Linked DNA regions of Homo sapiens. The protein of the gene in region 2 interacts with the protein of the main gene of each other region in a biochemical or structural test. Each region holds a gene or a part of one and is shown on either strand. Other genes may lie near its edges.

Region 1 (3,500 bases), on a different chromosome or scaffold from region 2:
GCAATGGTGTGACCTCTGCTCACTGCAACCTCCACCTCCAGGTTCAAGTGATTCTCCTGCCTCAGCCTCCCGAGTAGCTGGGATTACAGGCGTGCGCCGCCACGCCCAGCTAAATTTTTGAATTTTTAGTAGAGATGAGGTTTCACCATATAGGCCAGGCTGGTCTCGATCTCCTGACCTCGTGATCCGCTCTCCTCGGCCTCCCAAAGTGCTGAAATTACAGGCGTGAGCCCCTGCACCTGGACTGTTGTGTTCTTAAAATGGAAATGGAGCACGTTTCAGTGTAGATGGGAAAAAATCTTGTCAAGCAGGGAGAAAAGGAACATGCAAGTGAAAGAAGGGCTACTTGAATGTTCAGGATAATACTATTAAGGAAAAACTTGCTAGACTACCCACAGACACCTTTGAAATCACTTCTTCATCATGGTGAAGACCACAGGAAGCTTTGTGCTGAAGTCTTAAAGAGCCAGCATTTTGAAAGAACATGATTCTGTCAGTGTCAACGTCAGGCAATAGTGCCTGATAATGGAGACATCTGTGTCATGATTGCCATGCTCAGTTCATCTTCACTTACTTTTCCAGGAGCTGATGAGGATGTAGAGAGTCCAGAGCTGACAACATCTCGACCACTTCCAAAGATACTGTTGACTAGTGCTGCTCCAAAAGTGGAAACCACGACGCTGAATATACAGAACAAGATACCTGCTCAGACAAAGGTGCGTTCTATTTTCCATTGCATTGCATTATCAGGTTATTACAAATGCTTCACTTTACTGACTGTACACAACAGTCCCTTTTGTATTATTTTCTTCTTTTTGGAGCTACCCATCATGAACTATGTACACAACAGTTCTTTTAAAAGACCCCACTTAAAATTGTGTAAGGACAAATGGTCTTCAGGTGGTGTTATAAATGGCTCTTCCTTACTCTTTTTGATCATTTTGGCATTTACCCACTTATAATCTCTGTCATCCAGGCTCAAATTATATACAACTATTTTTCACATGGCCCTCCTTCTTAAGGAACGTCTGAAGCCCAGTTAAGAAGTAAAGCCCTGTTTCTTTGGTTTCCTGGTTTGTAGGTTACGTAATTAGAAGACTCCAGGTCACGTCTTGAGGTGGTCCTAGTCTCACTAAGTCATTTCTCAGTCTTCCTAGGCCGACCATCAGTACTATGTAATCCTTGACCTCTCTCGATGATGATGAACCTGGGTACATCTGTATATATTCATTTTGAGAGCTGACTTATTAAGAATAAGGTCTTTGGCCTTAGACCTGAGTAAAGTGACCAGCTAATGAAAACTTGGAGCTTGTGATTTTGACCTCGTTAATATTGCAGTTAGCTGACCATCCACTAATAGGTAACCCACTGAAGTTAGAACATGCATATTAAAGTCTGGCAAAGACCTAAGTTTCAAATCCTGGATCCAGTCAGGTTTCTTAGCTTCTGAACCCATTTCCTATGGGCCTTGAAGAAGATGAAATGTGAGTGCATGTAGCATGGCACCTGAGACCTAGTCACCATTCTGTAAGCATTAATTGAATTGGTGGAGCAGAAGAGACCAAGCCAATTCACCAAATGAGCATGTGTAATAACTGTAGTGGTAGACTTTGCAATCAGTGCAGGGGTAACATATGGCTTAAGAAAACTCAGAAGCACAAGCATCCCCTTTTAGAGCTCACCCATCTGTTGATTAGAAATGAGATGCTGCCAAGCTTTAGCAGCAGACAGGGTATGGATATGGAAGGCTGTTTGATGAAGGTGGCGACAGGCCTTCCTTGGAGTAAGAATCATCCCGTCTTCAGGCCAGAATGCATGTGGGCTTTTCTTACCCTTGCCCCAGAGTACCTTTGTTCTTCCTCCTCCTCCATCCTCCCAGTGCCTGTGACTGGAATGGTGAATGGCACCGCTGGATGGGTTTCTGCAGATGTGGAACAGCCAGGAAGCCAGCCCTGTCCAAATTGAAGTGCTTTCTGTAGGACCAAGAAGGGTCAATTACTATTAGTGGTAGACTTCACAAGCCAGGCGGTAGGAAGGCAGGGAGAGCCCTATGAGAACTGAGACCGACTCACCTGGCATGTGCTGGATCCATGCATAAAAGCTACTGTATCAATGTTTCAGTTGAGTGAATGAAACAAAAAAAGAAAGGGAGAAATGAAAAGTGCAGGTGCAATTGGTGGTACGATGACTGCCTCAGAGTGTGTGTGGCACAATTAGCTACTATTTACTAAAGATGCATTTGGCTCTTACCACATTTTTATTTGACCACTTCTCTTGACTAAATCTGCTGAAGTCAGAGACAATTAGGACTCACTAGCTTGAGGGAAGCAACTCTCCTGGGTGAGTTTTGGCTTGTAGTGATAGAGAGTTCTATCCTAAGCAAGACTTAATTTGACATAGAGTTCTGTCTGGTTTGTTAACAGCAATGGATTGACCACTAATTTAAGTTTTTAAAAATTGGTTTTAAGGAAGTAATTGCATCAGATCGAGATAAAAAATGTAGAACTTTGGCAGGTGAATTTAAAAATTAAGGAGCCCAAAAGATTTTAATACATTTATATTCTTACTATCATTTGTGTTCAATATAGTAATAGTAGAAATTCATCCATTTATAGGAGATTTGTTGAGTGCTATTCATTATGTGTCGAACACTGTTTGCAGCACTGATAATGATAATATTGATCATGAATAACATGAATAATAATGATTAAATTTTTCATTTTGCTGTTTATGTGGTACAGCCGAATTGAACATTGCCTCTAGGATACCATTAGTGTAGATTTTGCTTTTCAATTGGTCTCACAGTGGCATTAATGTCACTGTTACGGATATCCTATCTAGTTTGTTGTAAATTTAAGTGACTAAAATGCACAAAAGGGAATCTCGTTATTTGTTTGAGAAGAGCATCACTCATAAGCTTTTACTTCTGTTGCATTTCCATGGCATCCAAACAACCAGACATGGATGTGGCAGATCTTTACTTGGCCTCATTTAATCATCCCTGCTGTCTTTTTGCGGATTCATTTTGCACATACATTCATACAAGAGTGAAGGTATTTCAGATTAGTTCCATATTACCAAATGGTATCTTCTTAGTCAAGCCTTTGCTTCCATACGATAAAACATTTTGACTTAAAAAATGAATTTTCCACCCAGAGCCGCTTGAGGCTTGTGCACCTCCAGCTGCAGGGCGGCTCCAGTTCTGTGGAGTCCTTCAGTTCCCACACTCTCAGATCCCTGGATTGCACGCTTTGTTCAGCCTGCCGGATCAGAGGCTGAGTCAGAGGAAACTGAAAAGATCAACTCTCTTAAATGACTTTAGGGACTCAATCACATGGTGAAACCATATGATTTGTAATAATAATGGGACAAAGATGATATGGATATGGATGAATTAAACTCAGTCTCTCATATTACAGTAACTACTTAGGTCCATTTCATTTCTCACCAGAACTTGTTTACCTCTCTCCCTAGTCACAAACCTGAGTATTCACCTATTT
Region 2 (3,500 bases):
TCCTTTCTTTTACAGTGCTATGCTCTAGAATCACCAATCCCCATTAAAAAAAAACACACCTGGCATTCAAACAGACATGCAATGAGTTTGTTCTTTTATCTTCGAGATGTAATTTTCTTTACAGGTTTCAGAGCATTAAAGGGGAACTCCAGATACCACCTTGCCCTGCTACTGACTTCAGCCTATGTCCTCCTTACATTGAAAGGCTGTGAAAGTGGCACCAGGTAGGCATGTGTTGCTTCTGGAGCACTTTCTCCCAAAACACAAGAGCAGCCTGCTGGCACCAACAGAGAAGCTAGGATCCAAGCTCCGGAGGCTCCGCCCACAGCACATAGCACTGTGAGCCAGCGTGCCGCATCCTGAAACTTCAAGGGGCTGGGATCCCCTCTCCGGCTCCTGTCTCTACACAGGACTCTCAAAACAGGTTCTGACCTTAGAAAATTTAGGCCTCCGGCTCTCTGGTGTGCCTAGAAAGTTTTTCCTCTTAGGACTTTGAAACCTCATATAACAATTCATAGCCACTCATAAGCATAACTGCAGTATCAAAACAAAAAGGTTAAACATGAAAATTATGACTCACTTTTGAGTTAAAGAACTTTTAATTCTTGACCAAAGTTGGAAAATTAAAGCCCAAGGATTTCCTTTTTCCTAAGAGATCACATATAGGACATGAACAGGGTCTACAGAGAAGGTGGCCACAGGGTTTATAAGTGTCCTTGCTTAGGCCACACATTAAAAAAGCGTGATTCTCCAATAACAGGGACCAGACAGAGGCCTTTGGAGAAATGGCTGATTCCAGGACTAGAACAGGGAACACAAAGGATGAACCTGGTGCATCTCGAGGAGCCAGGCAGCAAGGAAGCCTGCAAAGAATGCAGGGCTCACACTTCAAGGTGCTCCTAAAGGCCAAATCTCAAACAACCTGAGCAAGAAGATACATACTCATAGATCATAACCCAAAGACCGAAACACATATCCATGAGTCCATATTAATATAACTGAATAAATGGAGAACAGAAATTGGCTCCTTATAGAATTCCAATTAATACACGTAAAAAGTTTTTAAAAATCACAATTTCTCAAATACCACAGTAATCTCATCAATGGTAGCTAGAACTAGGACATCTACATAGTTTAAAATTATCTCCCCCAAATATACTGACCAATTGTAAAGGGAAGGATAGTGATTTTACAGTGGAGAAACGTGGCAGACACCACCTTAACTAATAATCAAAATTAGCACCACCTAAGATAAGATATACCGACCACATGTGCCACCTTGAAAGAGGTCCTGGAAGGGCAAAACAGCACTTTATTCTTACCAAAAATGTAAAACTCCAAATAATGAGAAAACACCAGACAATCCAAGCTGAAGGGCTTTCCAAAGTCAATGGCCAGTACTCTTCAAAAATACCAAGGTCATGACAAAAAAAGACTGGAACTATCCCACATCGAAGGAGACAGGGAGGTCTGACAACTAACTGTGTGGCTCCAGAGAGGGTCCCGGGGCAGAAATAGGACATCAGTGAGACAACTGATTAAAATGGGAATGAGGTCTAGAGACTGCTAATGTTAATTTTCTTATCTTGGTATTTGGACTACGGTTACATAAGGTGTTAATGTTTGAGGAAGCTAAGTGAAGGGTATATGGGAATTATTTGTACTATTTTTAGAATCTTTTTAAAGTTTGAAATAATATATATATTTTAAATTGAGATGGGGTCTTACTCTGTCACCCAGGCTAGAGTGCAGTGGCACAATCTTGGCTCACTGCAGCCTCCGCCTCCCGGGCTCAAGTGATCCTCCCACCTCAGCCTCCCAAGTAGCTAGGACCACAGGCATGCACCACCACGCCCAGCTAATTTTTTGTACTTTTGGTGGAGACGGGGTTTTGCCATGTTGGCAAAGACCAGCCCAGGCTGGTCTTGAACTCCTGAGCTCAAGGGATCTACCTGTTTTAGCCTCCCAAAGTGCTGGGATTACAGGTATGAGCCACCATGCCCAGCCTGAAATGACTTTAAAATGCAAGAATGGGCCAGGCATGGTGGCTTACACCTGTATCCCAGCACTTTGGGAAGCCAAGGTGGGCAGATCATTTGAGGTCAGGAGTTTGAGACCAGCCTGGCCAACACAGTGAAACCCCATCTCTACTAAAAATACAAAAATTAGCCAGGAGTGGTGGCATGTGCCTGTAATCCTGGCTACTCGGGAGGCTGAGGCAGGAGAACCGCTTGAACCCAGGAGGCAGAGGTTACAGTGAGCTGAGAATGTGCCATTGCACTCCACCCTGGGTGACACAGTGAGATTCCATATCAAAAAAAAAAAAAAAACCAAGAATGATTAAAAAATGTAAATCCAAAATATGTAGCTGAGTGTGATAATGTTCTACATGTCTTAAGATTTTGCATTTTTCAGGCATATTTGTCAGAACTCAACAAATGAACACTTAAGATTACATTTCATTGTATTTAAATTTTACATCAAAAGAACAAAACATAACCAACCTCTAGTATATCATATGCACTTTCATTTTGAGGAAGGATATGGATGCCTGCAGTTTTCTTGGAAATGTGTTAGAGGGCCAGAGGGTGACAGTGGAGTGCATACGGAAAGAGACGTGAGAAAGCAAGCGAAGCCCTGAGTACCTATCCGCAAGGAATTTAAAGAAGAGACATGTTCTGTGGCTCCTGTTTCAGTCCCCAAGCTCCCCGTGCACCCTTTCCCTTTAAGGTGGAAGCCCTGGACCTAGTGCATTTCCAGAAACTCCTACCTACAGAAGGACTTCTATGATGAAATCTGCCCAAAGAGGGATGAAGCTAAGGGAGAAAAAGTGCTTTTACAGGACTAAAGATCAGGTTCCTCTAGTTTTTGTTAGTTTTTGTTTTTGGTCCGAGTGTCAGGTTTCAAATTGTAACCCAGCTAAACTGAACTTCCTCTGTTCACAAGCTTACAATGCCTGTCAGGAGGGCGCTTACCTGTTTTTGCCCTCTTTATACTCCCACCTATTCCAAGCTAAGGGTTTAAAGAAAGATGACAAATAGTCCTACATGCTCCCACTTAATGCTTATGTGTACAATGAAAAGGGAACCCCAAGAGACAGATTTCCCAGCCAGACCCTATTTAATACTAAAACAGGTGTTTTAATAGAGACTTTACTTGCAGAGTATAAATCTCTTAGAGCTCAATTTCCATATTCAATAGATCAGCTTTCTCACCTGAACAATGTTTCAGGCATATCTAATTCTCCTAGTTCTACCGAGAGAGGTAACAGCGCAACAGCTGGCGAGTTCTCAGCACTCCTCAGACTTCAGGACAGTCTCCTGCTTATGCTGCTACCAAGTTGTCAATATTTGTTCAAAAGGGAAAGAATTTGGGCCTATTAAATGACTGAATATCTACATAAATGCTTTTTTCATGAAGAGAGGGGTGTGCCTTCAGGAATGGGGAGAAGAGAGGCAGAAAGTGAGCCTGCCCAACACCCCAGCATGCTCTGTGGGGAA
Region 3 (3,500 bases), on a different chromosome or scaffold from region 2:
GATAGTTATTTCCCGACTAAGCTGGTCATTCCCAGTTACACCTATTTGGCTTTAAGGATTCTCACTACAGATAATGCTGAAGATAATAATATGAAGACTAGCTAATGTTTACTTAGAATTTCTGATGAGTCAGGCTTTGTTCTAAGGTCCTTGACTTATGCTAATTGAATTACATTTAGTTTCCATATCAATTTGATAAAGATAACACAATTTCATTATTCCTCTTATATAGATGAAGAAACTGAAGTTGGAGGGTTCAAGTAACCTTGTTTAAAGGCACATGGTTATCAAGTGGCAGGGCTAGGATTCAAATCCAGGCGTCAGTTCCTCTTAACTCTTCCCCATACTGTTTCTTTCCCTATTGAAGTGATTCAGTGTGAGCCTTTGGAGGCCCCAGAGCTGGGTACCATGGACTGTACTCACCCTTTGGGAAACTTCAGCTTCAGCTCACAGTGTGCCTTCAGCTGCTCTGAAGGAACAAACTTAACTGGGATTGAAGAAACCACCTGTGGACCATTTGGAAACTGGTCATCTCCAGAACCAACCTGTCAAGGTGAGTAACTTCAGACTAGAGGTTTTGTCATGCAATCCTGGGCTTACAGTCAGAACATTCAGTAGAAGTTTGCTGAGAAGTCAAACTTAGGAGCCTAATTTAACCTAACTTTGTTTAACCTACTGTGATGTTTCTCAAAGGACTTATTCTAACTAAATTTTTTTGAAAAACCTCCCAAACAAAAAGTAAAAACCAAATACCCCTGAAGCCATCTCCCAGTGTGTAACATGACTTATAGCAATACAGCATGGTTATACTGTGTTTTTTATTTTTCTCATTGCCATTGCATAAATAATGTCTTGTTGAACCTCAGTTACATTTTGGTTCTTCTCCTCTCAATAACACCTGTTTTATGTGGTGTCCTACTTAATACCAACCAGTTTCCTTCCCAGGGTAGTGGAGGTCTTTCTTGGTTGTTTTATTTGGCTTATTCTTAAAATCACTTTTACTTTTCCTCATGCATAAACTTTTAGGAGAATAACAACTGAAAAACAAAAACACAATCTCTTGATCTTTTCAAGTTTGAAATAAGGTAGGTTTTTTTTTTTTTTTCATTTTTAACTGCCAACCTTATCTCCATATGGGAGAAAACCAATGTCATCTGAACTTACGAAGTTTTGGTTAACTTTTCTACAAGTATGCTCCTGATGCATTAGTTTAAGTAGTTTAATTCTTAGAAGTGCTATCAAAATCCCTTATTGAAATTATAAAACTGTCAACCCACCTACTGGAATTTACGGAAGTTGGACTTGCTTCAGTGAATTGGGATGTTTTTCAAAATGCTTGGGTAGATATCAGAACAGATGAAACGGCAGAGATTCTCTGAGAATATCCCATAAGAGCCCTTGATGCAGAGGCCATATGGCATGGTACTTCCAGCAGAAGGGGAGGGTCACCTTAGCTAGGGCAGCAGCCTGGAGTAGCTACTCCTCTCCCCACAGCTTTCAATGCTTCCTTGCCTTCATCTCTCATTCACCACCCACCATCATTCTCAAGAAAATAAAGCCTGGAAGCAATATCACAAGTAATGTAGTCAGGCAGCTTTGGCTAAAAATCCTTTGCTCAAGGGAGGGTCTCTACTCAGAAATACTGTTTTGTCTTTTTTTTTTTTTTCTTTTTCATTGAAGTGATTCAGTGTGAGCCTCTATCAGCACCAGATTTGGGGATCATGAACTGTAGCCATCCCCTGGCCAGCTTCAGCTTTACCTCTGCATGTACCTTCATCTGCTCAGAAGGAACTGAGTTAATTGGGAAGAAGAAAACCATTTGTGAATCATCTGGAATCTGGTCAAATCCTAGTCCAATATGTCAAAGTGAGTAAGTTTGTCCTGGAAAACTGAAATCTTAACGATGGAGCTGATGGATGAGCAGATATGAGGAAAGACATACATAAACATTTACATGTTGTTTTGCTAAGAATATGTGGCCTAGAAATAAATTTGTATGCTTAACTCACTGTAAAATCTTTGGCTGGTCTTTCCTCCTCCTTTAATGACAATCATTTCCTTTTTTTGTTCTCACCTCTTGCCATCTTAACTCCTAAAATCTGAACTCACTGATTTACTTTTTACCCATTCTTCTATTCCACTACAATCTAACATCTCTGTTAGCCCATTGAAATGCCTGTAAAAGGTCACTAATGACCACCTACTTCCCCAAATAATGGATACTCCTGAATCATCACTAAGCTAATGCCTCCAAAATCTATCTGTATATGAGAAGAATCATGTCTTGTTCATCTTTGTATACCCTCCACCTGACACAGTGCCTGGCAATAGGTGCTAAAGCAAATGCATGTTAAGCTAGCATGTGAAAGAATAGCTACCTGTGTCTGCTCCTGAGACTATCTGCATGGATGACAAAAGTCTTTAAATGGTAGGATCTACAGAAGCTGTCAGAAATGCTGATCTCTGTGTGCTGCGTGCCCAGGGCCAGGGAGTAGAGTGGATGAGCAGAGAGAGGCAGGGAGGCCTTTAGCAGAGGACTGTGTATTAGGCCTATCAGAGACATTTCCCTTTAAGGCCTAGCTAGTGTTCATTTCCTCCTCATCTTCATCAAGCCAACAGGTACCTTCTGTCTGGAGCTCCTGGGAACTTGAGCCTTCTCTCAATCATATATTTGGGTGTGGGGATCAAATCACCTTGAAAAGGTTCATCAAAGTAATGGGAAGAACTAAGGATAGAATCAGACCCTCTGCCAATATGTAAAAAAGTAGATTCCTTCAAATGTTAGTATCAGGAGACAGATTTTTTTTTATACCAGTATTTTCAAATAGAGGCTCCCAAATGAACTTAGTTTACACTTACAAGAGTATCTCTAAACATGCCCTTTTACTTATTCGTGAAGGAAGTAGAGGGAAGTGGTAACTACTGCATTGGAAAGAAATTAGTGCAGGTCCTTGGCATGTAAAAATCAAGTGCTTATTTTTGCACAACTGCTTTAAAGTAAAAGCATTAATGATTTCCTTTGACTGGTGAATTATCCAGTTCAGATCATTGGCTTTTATTTTTCCTGAAGTTGTATTAGGCTTTTAGCTCTTCTCTGTGTTTCAGAGTTCCAGTCATTGAACAAGTCCATGGAGCTAAATACAACGATGACCATTCTTGCCAACATTTTTAGGTGCATTTTCAGGAACTCTATGAACCACAAATCTGGGCATTGAGATTCTGTAGGCATTAGACTAGCAAGGCTGGTCCAGTCTTTGCCTATGCTGTAGACTCATCAGGGGCCTTCCCATGCCAGTTTCCTCATCTGTCAAATGGCATCAAATGGGCTACTACTGGGAGATGTAAGGAGGAAAAAAGTCAAATATCATGAGATAGACTAAGGAAATAATGCTGGTGGTCTCATGCTATGTGCCTTACTGATTTCTCTTTCAGAATTGGACAAAAGTTTCTCAATGATTAAGGAGGGTGATTATAACCCCCTCTTCATTCCAGTGGCAGTC
Region 4 (3,968 bases), on a different chromosome or scaffold from region 2:
AAAGGCTGGGCAAGGTGACTCATGCCTGTAATCCCACCACTTTGGGAGGCCGAGGGAGGCGGATCACTTGAGGTCAGGAGTTTGAGACCAACCTGGCCCATATGGCAAAACCCTGTCTCTACTAAAAATACAAAAATTAGCCGGGCATGGTGTCACACGCCTGTAATCCCAGCTACTAAGGAGGCTAAGACAGGAGAATCACTTGAACCCAGGAGGCGGAGGTTGCAATGAGCTGACATCGCGCCATTGTACTCCAGCATGGGGGACAATAGCAAGACTGCGTCTCAAAGAAAAGAAAAGTCAAAAAGTAGGCCAGGCATGGTGGCTCACGCTTATAATCCCAGCACTTTGGGAGGCCAAGGCGGGCAGATCATTTGAGGCCAGGAGTTTGAGACCAGCCTGGGCAACATGGTGAAATCCTGTCCCTACTAAAAATACAAAAATTAGCTGGGCGTGTTGGCATGCGCCTGTAATCCCAGCTACTCAGGAGGCTGAGGCAGGAGAATCGCTTGAACCCGGAAGGCAGAGGTTGCAGTGAGCCAAGATTGCGCCACTGCACTCTAGCCTGGGGGACAGAGTGAGACTCTGTCTCAAAAAAAAAAAAAAAGAAAAGAAAAGAAAAAAAAAAGTAGCCAGGCCTGCAATCCCAGCTACTGGAGAGACTGAAGTGGGAGGATTGCCTGAGCCCAGGAGTTTGAGACCAACCTAGGCAACATAGGGAGATCCTGTCTCTAAAATAAAGGTATAAAAAAGTGTAAATGTAAAACCTCCATTTGCCTACTGCTGACTGAAAGGGGTACCCCCTTTTTTGCTTAAGAGACAAGGGTCTTGCTTTTTTGCACAGGCTGGAGTGCAGTGGTGCAATTATAGCTCACTACAGCCTTGAACTCCTGGGCTCAAGCGATTCTCCCACCTTGGTCCCCCAAGTAGCTGGGACTTCAGGCATGTGCCACCATGCCCAGCTAATATTTTTTATTTATTTTTGTAGAGACGGGGTGTCCCTATATTGCTCTGCCTGGTCTTAAATTTCCGGACTCAAGCAATCCTCCTGCCTTGGCCTCCCAAAGTGTTGGGATTATTGTTGGGGCCAGGCGCAGTGGCTCACACTTGTAATCCCAGCACTTTGAGAGGCTGATGTGGGCGGAACACCCCGTCTCTACTAAAAATACAAAACTTAGCTGGGCATTAGCTGGACCTGGGAGGCAGAGGTCGCAGTGAGCCGAGATTGCACCACTGCACTCCAGCCTGGGCTACAGAGTAAGAGACGCCATCTCAAAAAAAAAAAAAAGCTTGTTGGGGCCGGGCGCAGTGGCCCATGCCTGTAATCCCAGCACTTTGGGAGGCTGAGGTGGGCGGATCGCCTGAGGTCAGGAGTTCAAGACCAGACTGGCCAACATGGTGAAATGCCATCTCAACTAAAAATACAAAATTTGCTGGGTGTGGTGGCGTGCATGTGTAATCTCAGCCACTCGGGAGGCTGAGGCAGGAGAATCACTTGAACCCAGGAGGCGAAGGTTGCAGTGAGCCGACATCGTGCCACTGCACTCCAGCCTAGGCAAAAAGAGCGAAACTCTGTCTCAAAAAAAAAAAAAAAATGCTTGTTGGGGCCCAAGTTAATTGATTTCACAACTGCTGCCTTGGCATGAGATTGAGATGCGTCTCTATATCTCTGTCTCTGTCTCTGTGTCTCTGTCTCTGTCTATCTTTGTATCTCACACACAAATGTCCAGGTCTGAGCTCTGGGTCAGAACTGTGGTCCATTCTTTGCAAACTGAGGGTCCCCACTCTCCTGAGCCATTGGCCACTTGCCCACACCACTACCCAAGACCAGTCCCACCTCCGGACACGTCGACTCACTGTACACGGTGATGTTAGAGGAGCCTGTTATCTGAGAGCCATTGCAGTACACTGAGCAGAGGATCCGACTGTTGCCAGTCACGTTGCTGAGATTGAAGGCTGCCCAGCCCATGCCACTGGCCACCAGCTCCTTTGATAGGGACGTCTCCAAGGCGATTTTCTCAGAGCTGGGACAATCAGTACTGCAGTTCACAAACAGGGACCCTCCAGCAGAGAGCACAGGGTTCTGGGGCTCCACCCGCAAAAGGAACTCCTGCCCCTGGACACCTTCAGGAACATGAAGAAGTCCTGGTGTTTGTTTCCTTGTCCCCCAACCCACGCATCAACAGGCCCCACCATTTAACACCTCTCTCCTTGTGCCGAGACAGAAGGGTTCCTGCCTTCATGGTCCAGTGGGAAAGGTAGAATCCATCAGAGACCGGGGAGAACTCAGAAGGAGGCCAGAAGAGGCTCTGATCCAGCATAGGAGGAGGTGAGTCAGGGAAGGCTTCCTGGAAGCGGGGACCATTGCAGCCCGAAACTGAAGGCTAAGTAGGAGTTAGCAAGTGAAAGGGACAGGTGATCCTGGCAGAGGGAAGCACATACGCAAAGGGCAAATTTCAGGAGTTCAGATGGAGCAGGAAGCATGAGGGGTGTGTGTGTGTGTGTTAGGGGAGAGGGATGGCGTACAAGCCTATGCTGGGGCCTGACCACCTGAAGGCTGAACTAAGGAACCAGAACTTTCTCCCGAGGATACAGAGTCAGCGGCCAGGTCGCAGTGTGGCAGGATGTGAACAGCGTTGCGTTCTATTCCTCTACCCTCTACTGATCCCCAAAACGCAGCCCTCTCCAGCCCTCCCCGGCTTGACTGGTCTCACCTGGGGTCAGCAGACAGCAGACCAGCAGAGTCCAGCAGGCCCTGGGCCACAACACGGATGGTACCATGGTGGCCATTCTGACAGAGGAAGGTGCCTTCCTGAGGTGCCCGAAGGGCAGGCAGGGGAAAAGGCGGGGCCTCCCACTGCGACGGAAGCACAGCGGTTAAGATTGCAGAAGTCTGGGGACTGCACCTTGCCCAGGCCTGTGGGTGGAAGGGGATGCTGTGGCCCTTGGGGGCCAGGGTGGGGGACCCAGACGGGGCTCTGCAAAGTGGCCAGCACTGCTGAGTCTCCCCCAGGGAATGGGCTGGTCCCAGTTGCACTGCTGGCCCCCATTTGAATTCACAGGAAATGCTAACTAAACTGGTTTCTTTTGTTCTCAGCACTGGGAAGCCTGGGTGGGGGGGATGAGGCATCTCCTTCTGGCTGAACTTAGGTGGGTAGGGGAATATTCTGTCCCCAGAGAGGAAGTTAATGGGGAAAACTGTAGGCACCATTGTGTAGATGTTAAGGTGGGATTTCGAGGAAACATTAAAAAACAAAAACAAAAACAGAAACAGAAGCAGAGTCTTGCTATGTTGCCCCGACTGGTCTTGAACTCCTGGCCTTAAGATGGCCTCCTCTCATCTTGACCTCCCAAAGTGTTGCGATTACAGGCGTGAGCCACCACGCCTGGCCACCTTTGAAGATCTTGAGGATACCTCCCTATCTTTGAAGATCTTGGGGATCCCCCATCCCCTGCACAAAGAGCTAAGGTAGGTGATTTGGGGACAGCTGAGTCCCTGAGCCACTGTCTATCCAGGATTCTACTTGGTTTTTGTTTGTTTGTTTTGAGACAGAGTCTCACTCTGTCACCCAGGTTGGAGTGCAGTGGCGGGATCTCGGCTCACTGCAGCCTCTGCCTCCCGGGTTCAAACGATTTTCCTGCCTCAGCCTCCCGAGTAGCTGGGATTACAGGCATGTGCCACCACGCCCGGCTAATTTTTGTACTTTTTGGTAGAGACGGGGTTTCACCATGTTGGCCAAGCTGGTCTCAAACTTCTGACCTCAAGTGAGCTGCCCGCCTTGGCCTCCCAAAGTGTTGGGATTACAGGCGTGAGCCACTGCGCCCGGCCTTCCAGGATTCTACTTGTAACTGGCCTTTACCCCATCCTGTTGTCCCCTTGCCCACCCTTCCAGGCAGCTGGTCACTGCATTCCAAGGGAAGGCGCCAAGGGGACCAGGTGGGACCCCCACCTTTGACCTGCCTCTGAC

Evidence for each region.
Region 1: the proteins of EZR (region 2) and SDC2 form a complex in vitro, tested with the Homo sapiens proteins (one study listed by BioGRID).
Region 3: the proteins of EZR (region 2) and SELL form a complex in vitro, tested with the Homo sapiens proteins (one study listed by BioGRID).
Region 4: the proteins of EZR (region 2) and ICAM3 form a complex in vitro, tested with the Homo sapiens proteins (2 studies listed by BioGRID).

What each region holds. Positions count from the first base shown.
Region 1 is NC_000008.11:96,601,813-96,605,312, forward strand, and holds part of SDC2 (syndecan-2 precursor), read left to right. Parts: intron 1-582; coding exon 583-716; intron 717-3,500. UniProt on the Homo sapiens protein: Cell surface proteoglycan which regulates dendritic arbor morphogenesis.
Region 2 is NC_000006.12:158,777,869-158,781,368, forward strand, and holds part of EZR (ezrin), read right to left. Parts: intron 1-3,500. UniProt on the Homo sapiens protein: Probably involved in connections of major cytoskeletal structures to the plasma membrane. In epithelial cells, required for the formation of microvilli and membrane ruffles on the apical pole. Along with PLEKHG6, required for normal macropinocytosis.
Region 3 is NC_000001.11:169,701,621-169,705,120, reverse strand, and holds part of SELL (L-selectin precursor), read left to right. Parts: intron 1-367; coding exon 368-553; intron 554-1,680; coding exon 1,681-1,866; intron 1,867-3,432; coding exon 3,433-3,500. UniProt on the Homo sapiens protein: Calcium-dependent lectin that mediates cell adhesion by binding to glycoproteins on neighboring cells. Mediates the adherence of lymphocytes to endothelial cells of high endothelial venules in peripheral lymph nodes.
Region 4 is NC_000019.10:10,336,825-10,340,792, forward strand, and holds the start of ICAM3 (intercellular adhesion molecule 3 isoform 1 precursor), read right to left. Parts: upstream 2,801-3,968; 5' UTR 2,791-2,800; coding exon 2,715-2,790; intron 2,422-2,714; exon of another isoform or gene 2,125-2,421; coding exon 1,858-2,124; intron 1-1,857. UniProt on the Homo sapiens protein: ICAM proteins are ligands for the leukocyte adhesion protein LFA-1 (integrin alpha-L/beta-2). ICAM3 is also a ligand for integrin alpha-D/beta-2. In association with integrin alpha-L/beta-2, contributes to apoptotic neutrophil phagocytosis by macrophages.